Homo sapiens: one gene and its partner. The protein of the gene in region 1 purifies or fractionates together with the protein of each later gene. This does not show direct contact. Each region holds a gene or a part of one and is shown in the gene's direction. Other genes may lie near its edges.

Region 1 (3,923 bases):
CAGTGACTTAGGGGATTTTAAAAGCTATCATGAAAAAGTACAATAAAATGCAACTATACTGAAAAATTGTTCAAAAATACCTTAACATAAATTTGTCAGAACACAGTCTTGGATCAAATCAATACTTATTTTCTGTTTTCTCATTTCACGTGAGGGCAATAACTCACTCCTCCATAATGTTTTGTTGAAACGTGTTTTTTATTTTAGGGACGCTTGACTTTCAGGGATGTGGCTATAGAGTTCTCTTTGGAGGAGTGGAAATGCCTGAACCCTGCACAGAGGGCTTTATACAGGGCTGTGATGTTGGAGAACTACAGGAACCTGGAGTTTGTGGGTGAGGAAAATGTCCCTCCAGACATGAGGAATCTGCACTTGTCTATCTTGGCTCTTTCTGGTTTTATATTCTCTTTTGTGATTTTGCCCCATACATGCTTTTGATGTACATGTCATTGTTTTCTGCGGTGATGACCCTCCTATCTGTCATGGACAGCTTCTTAGAGACTCTTCTTTGGAGTGGTTTTACATAAAAACAGAAAATTCACGAACACTTTGACTAATACAATTGAACATCATCCTGCTCTAGGAAGAGATGTCCCTGGAAGCCCTGAGCAGAATGGTCAGCATGGCCCAGGATACGAGATAGAAAGCATGACACTGATTGACAAGTGTTTCCAGCTGTGCTTGTGGTTTTGTTTTCTTTTTGTTTGTTTGTTTTCAGACAGAGTCTCCCTCTGTTGAACAGACTGGAGTGCAGAGTCTTGATCTCATCTTATTGCAACCTCTGCATCCTGAGTTCAAGCAATTCTTGTACTTCAGCCTCTCAACCTAACTGGAATTACAGGCACATGCCTCCATACCTGGCAGATTTTCATATTTTTATTAGACATAGGGTATCACCATGTTGGCCAAGTTGGTCTTGAACTCCTGGCCTCAAGCAATTTGCCCACCTCAGCCTCGAAGTGTTGGGATTACAGGCGTGAGCCACCATGCTTGGCCTTTCATTCTGGTTTTTGAGAACCATCACAGAAGCATCTCTCACTAGCACTGTGACAGTGTTCATCACATAAACGAATGGTCATCTTCTCTAAGCAGTAGTCACTGCTGTAGAAATTCCTCTTAGGGAGGACATCATTCAGGCTCACTGCCTCATATATATGAGGCTCTTGACTGAACTCTTTTTTTTTTCTACACAGAATTTTGCTCTTGTTGCCCAGGCTGGAGTGCAATGTGGTGATCTCCGCATGCTGCAACCTCTGCCTCCTGGCTTCAAGCAATTCTGCTGCCTCAGCCTCCTGAGTAGCTGGGATTACAGGCACCCACCACCATGACTGGCTAATTTTTGTATGTTCAGTAGAGACAGTGTGTTCTTAAACTATGAAGATCACATTTGGGAAGTTTAAAATAAGTATTGCTTTTTGTGTAATTTTTACACATCTGAATATCAACTATTATTTACCATCTGTACTTAATTGGAAACCTATTGGTCTTTATATTTTTTAGATAGCTCTTTAAAATCCATGATGGAGTTCTCATCAACCAGGCACAGTATTACAGGAGAAGTGATCCACACAGGGACGTTGCAAAGACATAAAAGTCATCACATTGGAGATTTTTGCTTCCCAGAAATGAAGAAAGATATTCATCACTTTGAGTTTCAGTGGCAAGAAGTTGAAAGAAATGGCCATGAAGCACCCATGACAAAAATCAAAAAGTTGACTGGTAGTACAGACCGAAGTGATCACAGGCATGCTGGAAACAAGCCTATTAAAGATCAGCTTGGATTAAGCTTTCATTCGCATCTGCCTGAACTCCACATGTTTCAGACTAAAGGGAAAATTAGTAACCAATTGGACAAGTCTATCGGTGCTTCCTCAGCTTCAGAATCCCAAAGAATTTCTTGTAGGCTCAAAACTCATATTTCTAATAAGTATGGGAAGAATTTCCTCCATTCTTCATTCACACAAATACAGGAAATATGCATGAGAGAAAAACCTTGCCAAAGTAATGAGTGTGGCAAAGCCTTTAATTATAGCTCACTCTTAAGGAGACACCACATAACCCATTCAAGAGAGAGAGAATATAAATGTGATGTATGTGGCAAGATCTTTAATCAGAAGCAATACATTGTATATCATCATAGATGTCACACTGGTGAGAAAACTTACAAGTGTAATGAGTGTGGGAAGACCTTCACTCAGATGTCATCCCTTGTATGCCATCGTAGACTTCATACTGGAGAGAAACCTTACAAGTGTAATGAGTGTGGCAAGACCTTCAGTGAGAAGTCATCCCTTAGATGCCATCGTAGACTTCATACTGGAGAGAAACCTTACAAGTGTAATGAGTGTGGCAAGACTTTTGGTCGAAATTCAGCCCTTGTAATTCATAAGGCAATTCATACTGGAGAGAAACCTTACAAGTGTAATGAGTGTGGCAAGACCTTCAGTCAGAAATCATCCCTTCAATGCCATCATATACTTCACACTGGAGAGAAACCTTACAAATGTGAAGAATGTGACAATGTTTACATTCGCAGATCACACCTTGAAAGACATAGGAAGATTCATACTGGAGAGGGATCATACAAATGTAAGGTTTGTGACAAGGTTTTCCGGAGTGATTCATACCTTGCAGAACATCAGAGAGTTCATACTGGAGAGAAACCATACAAGTGTAATAAATGTGGCAGGAGTTTCAGTCGGAAGTCATCCCTTCAATACCATCATACACTTCACACTGGAGAGAAACCTTACACATGTAATGAATGTGGCAAGGTTTTTAGTCGAAGAGAAAACCTTGCACGTCATCATAGACTTCATGCTGGAGAGAAACCTTACAAATGTGAAGAATGTGACAAAGTTTTCAGTCGCAGATCACACCTTGAAAGACATAGGAGAATTCATACTGGGGAAAAACCATACAAATGTAAGGTTTGTGACAAGGCTTTCCGGAGTGATTCATGCCTTGCAAACCATACGAGAGTTCATACTGGAGAGAAACCTTACAAGTGTAATAAATGTGCGAAGGTTTTTAATCAAAAAGGAATCCTTGCACAACATCAGAGAGTTCATACTGGAGAGAAACCTTACAAGTGTAATGAATGTGGCAAGGTTTTTAATCAAAAAGCAAGCCTTGCAAAACATCAGAGAGTTCATACTGCAGAGAAACCTTACAAGTGTAATGAGTGTGGCAAAGCCTTTACTGGACAGTCAACACTTATTCACCATCAAGCAATCCATGGGTGTAGGGAAACTTTACAAATGTAATGATTGTCACAAAGTCTTCAGTAATGCTACAACCATTGCAAATCATTACAGAATCCATATTGAAGAGAGATCTACAAGTGTAATAAATGTGGCAAATTTTTCAGACGTCATTCATAACTTGTAGTTCATCAGTGAACTCATACTGGAGAGAAACCTTACAAATATCATGACTGTGACAAGGTCTTCAGTCAAGCTTCATCCTATGCAAAACATAGAATTCATACAGGAGAGAAACCTCACAAGTGTGATGATTGTGGCAAAGCCTTTACTTCATGTTCACACCTCATTAGACATCAGAGAATTCATACTGGACAGATGCCTTACAAATGTAAGGGTGGCAAGGTCTTCACTCTGTGGTCATTCCATGCAGAACATCAGAAAATTCATTTTTGAGATAATTGTTCCAAATAAAATGAATATAAAAAATCATAAAACTTTAATTGACATTAGAGTTGATTCAACATTGACTTGAGTTTGAGTTGACTTAACATTGAGTTCACGCATTAATTGACATAAAAAGTGTTAATGTTAAGAAGAATGGGTCAGGTGCAGTGGCTCATGCCTGTTTTCCCAGTACTTTGGGAGGCCAAGGCAGGTAGATCACTTGAGGTCAGCAGTTTGAGACCAGCCTGGCCAACAGACTTGAGCCACTTTACC
Region 2 (3,923 bases), on another chromosome or scaffold:
GAGTCTCGCTCTGTCACCCAGGCTGGAATGCAGTGGACCGATCTCGGCTCACTGCAAGCTCTGCCTCCCAGGTTCACGCCATTCTTCTGCCTCAGCCTCCCGAGTAGCTGGGACTACGGGCGACCGCCACCACGCCCGGCTAATTTTTTGTATTTTTAGTAGAGAAAGGGTTTCACCGTGTTAGCCAGGATGGTCTCGATCTCCTGACCTCGTGATCCGCCTGCCTCGGCCTCCCAAAGTGCTGGGATTACAGGCATGAGCCACCACGCCCGCCCATGTAATGTGTATTTTATAGTTTAAAAAAAAAACTTATAAAATAGTGTGGTACTCAGACACAGATCATTGGAACAAAAATCCAGAAACAGACCCACACATATATGGTCACAAGGCGAAGGTAATTCAATGTATAAGAGTCTTTTCAGGCCGGGCGCGGTGGCTCACGCCTGTAATCCCAGCACTTTGGGAGGCCGAGGCGGGCGGATCACGAGGTCAGGAGATCGAGACCATCCCGGCTAAAACGGTGAAACCCCGTCTCTACTAAAAATACAAAAAATTAGCCGGGCGTAGTGGCGGGCGCCTGTAGTCCCAGCTACTTGGGAGGCTGAGGCAGGAGAATGGCGTGAACCCGGGAGGCGGAGCTTGCAGTGAGCCGAGATCCCGCCACTGCACTCCAGCCTGGGCGACAGAGCGAGACTCCGTCTCAAAAAAAAAAAAAAGAGTCTTTTCAACAAACGGTAATGGAACGACTGTATATCCCAATAGGAAAATGTTGACACTTACTTGACAACATAAGCAAAAATTAATGATATTAGATCATATCATAGACTTACACGTTAAAGACTATGTAAAACATATATGAGAACACAGAATATCTTCAAGAACTTGAGGTAGGCAGAGATTTCCTAGCACAGGAAAAGCACAAACCATTAAAATATAAAACTGACCAATTGACTTAATCAGAATTAAAAACTTCTTTGCCAAAAACGTCAAAACAATGAAACGACAGGCCCAGATTGGGAAAAAGACTTCGCAATCATTTATGTAACAAAAGATTTTCATTCAGAGCATACATATATCTAACAAAACATTTGTATCCAGAACTGTTAAACACGAAGGACCAGATTTAAAAACGGGCAGAAGACTGGAACTGAAACTTCACAAAAGATGCAGAATGGTCAGTAAGCACAGGACAAAAACGGTGCCAGTGACGCTGGTGCCAAAGCGGGAAGGAACGCATTCTTCAGCCTAAAAGACCTAACAGTAGGACACGGACATAACCACTCCCGGCCAAAAAGAACACAGAGCAACACAACGTCTTGGCTAACGAAAACTCAAAGCCTCAATTCACTCAGTTCCTTCACAGCGCTCGGAAACAGAGAAGTCTCGCGGTATCGGAAAATGCGCGGCGCTCACAGCCACACCTGACGAGATGGAGGGCGCAGGCGCATCCACGGCTTTCAGATTGGGCGACTGACTTCAAAGGGGGGGGCAAACAGGGAACGCGCAGGTATAGGAGCGCTGGCTGGAGGCTCCTCGAGAGCTCCCCAGACACGCCCCCGTGCGTACGCCCCCGTGCGTACGCCCCCGCTGCCGCCACCTTCGGTTGACCACCCCCATCTAGACTGTACTCTCGCGGTATTTGTCCCGACTCTCGCGGGGTTTAGCGTGGCATTGGGAGGCCCGGCCTGGGGGAGGAGACGGCGTTCCGTTAGCGGCGTTGGGGTTTGGCTGCAGTGGCAGTGCTTTCTCTTCTGCTCACGGGGACCCGCTCAGGCTGGAGGCCAGCCAGGTGAAGAGCTCGCCCGCATGCGTGCGCGCTGCGTGGGAGCCGCGAGGCCCGGGGCGGGAGGGGGCCTCGTCTTGGCCTCCTGCGCTGTCGCGACGGGCCGGCGTGAGGCACCGTGGCGCGGACTTCGTCTCAGCCCCGCCCTCGCCCCTGCCCTCGCCCCCGCCCTCGCCCCTGCCCTGACCGCTTTTCTCCCCCTCTCTCCCAGCTCTTGCCGCCACCTCGGTCGCGATGGGGGCGCAGGACCGGCCGCAGTGCCACTTCGACATCGAGATCAACCGGGAGCCGGGTGAGCTGGAAACTGGGGAGCGCTGCTGGGGCCGAGGCCTGCCTTGGCGAAGGGGAGGGGTCTACCCTCAGCAACCCTCCCCCGGCCTTTTTGGGAGCGGGTAGGAGGCGCAGGCAACTTTCCGTTTTCTCTTGAGAGAAAATCAGTGGGAGAGGAAGGTGGCCTGGGCACACCCCTAACTCGCAGTCCGGGCCTCTTCCTGCCAAACCCCACACACCCCGCTGCATCTCCGGACTGAGTCCTCGTAGCCAGCCTGGCGCCAAGAAAAGGAGGTGCAGTTCTTTGAGGACTTTTTCTCTCCCAGTGTCTCCGTGAGGCAGACACTCCCGATCCGATTTCCGGTTATCTTGCTTGGTGCTATGAAGTTTCAACTAGTAGGAAATATTGTGTGTTTCCTAATCACGATATATCACTAATATGTTAATTTTGCCTCTATTTTTCCTTAAGAATCTTTAGCTAGAATTTCGTGGTTCCTGGGAAAATGGCTTAGTGAAGATCTTTTGTGATAAACCAGAGCATTTTGTACCAGCAGAATTGCAGCATGCATGCACTTAGCATTAATGTTTGTCTTTAGGGAATCCAGACATTTGTTAGTGTATTTTTTTTAAATGAAACATTTCCTTCTAAAGCATAGTTATTTCATTCTAAGTAGCAGAGCGTGCAGGGTTTCAAACTGTTTTCTTAGCTTTTTTTGTTATCCGTGACAAAAGTTTTAATTGGAGACATATATATATGTGTTGTCTTTGTGCAACATCTTGTTCTGCATATTCTTATGAGAGCCTGCTACTGTTCTAGGGTCTGGAGATAGAGCAGCGCATAAAACAAAGGCCTCTTCCTTTTATAGTTTATATTCTATTGGGGGGAAGACGGACAACTAGGAAAAAAATAACAGTGACTTGTAGTTGGGATACTATTTTAATAAGTTGGTCAGACAAGGCCATTTTGAGAAGATGAGATTTAAGCAGGTATCAGAAGGAGATGAAGTGAGCCGTATTTAAGAAGAGCATTCGTGGTAGAGGGAAACAGCACAGCCCTGAGGTGAGGAGTAGTATACAGTCAGGCGCCAAATGACATTTCTATCTTTAACAATGGTCTTATATATAATACCTTTTTTTGGTAACTTTTTAATGTTTAGCTGTGTTTAGATATACAAATACTTCATTGTGTTAAAGTTGCCTACGGTATTCAGTGGAGTAACATCCTGTACAGGTTTGTAGCCTAGGAGCAAATAGACTATATAGCTTAGGTGTGTAGTAGGCCGTACCATCTAGGTGTGTTTAAATACATTCCATGATGTTCACACAATGACGAAATTGCCTAATTACACATTTCTCAGAATCCGTCCTGGTTATTAAACAATGGAGGACTGTACTTGCATGTTTGAGGGACAGCAGGGTGCCCAGTGTGGCTGGAGTAGAAGAGGAAAGAGAATAGTAAGAAATGGCCTGTAGGACTGACTCAGTGAGGTAGGAAGATATTAAAGGGTTTCGAGCAAAGGGATGAGATAATCCTGGAAATTTGGTTGCCTTCTCTCTCTTTTTAATGTTTTTAGCCTTGATTGATCTTTTTTTTTTTTTTTTTTAAATAAGTGTTACTAGAAAGCCTTGATGGACCTTAATCTTTATTTTGTAGTGAATCCATGCTTTAGATAACAGGGTTATTTTCTATTAAGAATTAAAAATAGCTCACGCCTGTAATCCCAGCACTTTGGGAGGCAGACGCGGGTGTATCATTTTGAGGTCAGGAGTTCGAGACCAGCCTGGCCTACATGGCGAAACCCCATCTCTACAAAAAATAAAAAAATTAGCTGGGCATGGTGGCTCTCTTAGTTTTTGCCTGTAGTCCCAG

The links.
Region 2: the proteins of ZNF816 (region 1) and NKTR purify together in Homo sapiens (affinity purification with mass spectrometry; 2 studies listed by BioGRID and IntAct, with this or other methods). This does not show direct contact.

Annotation. Positions count from the first base shown.
Region 1 is NC_000019.10:52,949,162-52,953,084, reverse strand, and holds the end of ZNF816 (zinc finger protein 816), read left to right. Parts: intron 1-207; coding exon 208-334; intron 335-1,500; coding exon 1,501-3,266; 3' UTR 3,267-3,700; downstream 3,701-3,923. Other genes in the region: ZNF816-ZNF321P (ZNF816-ZNF321 protein), read left to right, coding at 208-334. UniProt on the Homo sapiens protein: May be involved in transcriptional regulation.
Region 2 is NC_000003.12:42,598,990-42,602,912, forward strand, and holds the start of NKTR (NK-tumor recognition protein), read left to right. Parts: upstream 1-1,696; 5' UTR 1,697-1,789; intron 1,790-1,970; exon of another isoform or gene 1,971-1,994; 5' UTR 1,995-2,017; coding exon 2,018-2,075; exon of another isoform or gene 2,076-2,089; intron 2,090-3,923. UniProt on the Homo sapiens protein: PPIase that catalyzes the cis-trans isomerization of proline imidic peptide bonds in oligopeptides and may therefore assist protein folding. Component of a putative tumor-recognition complex involved in the function of NK cells.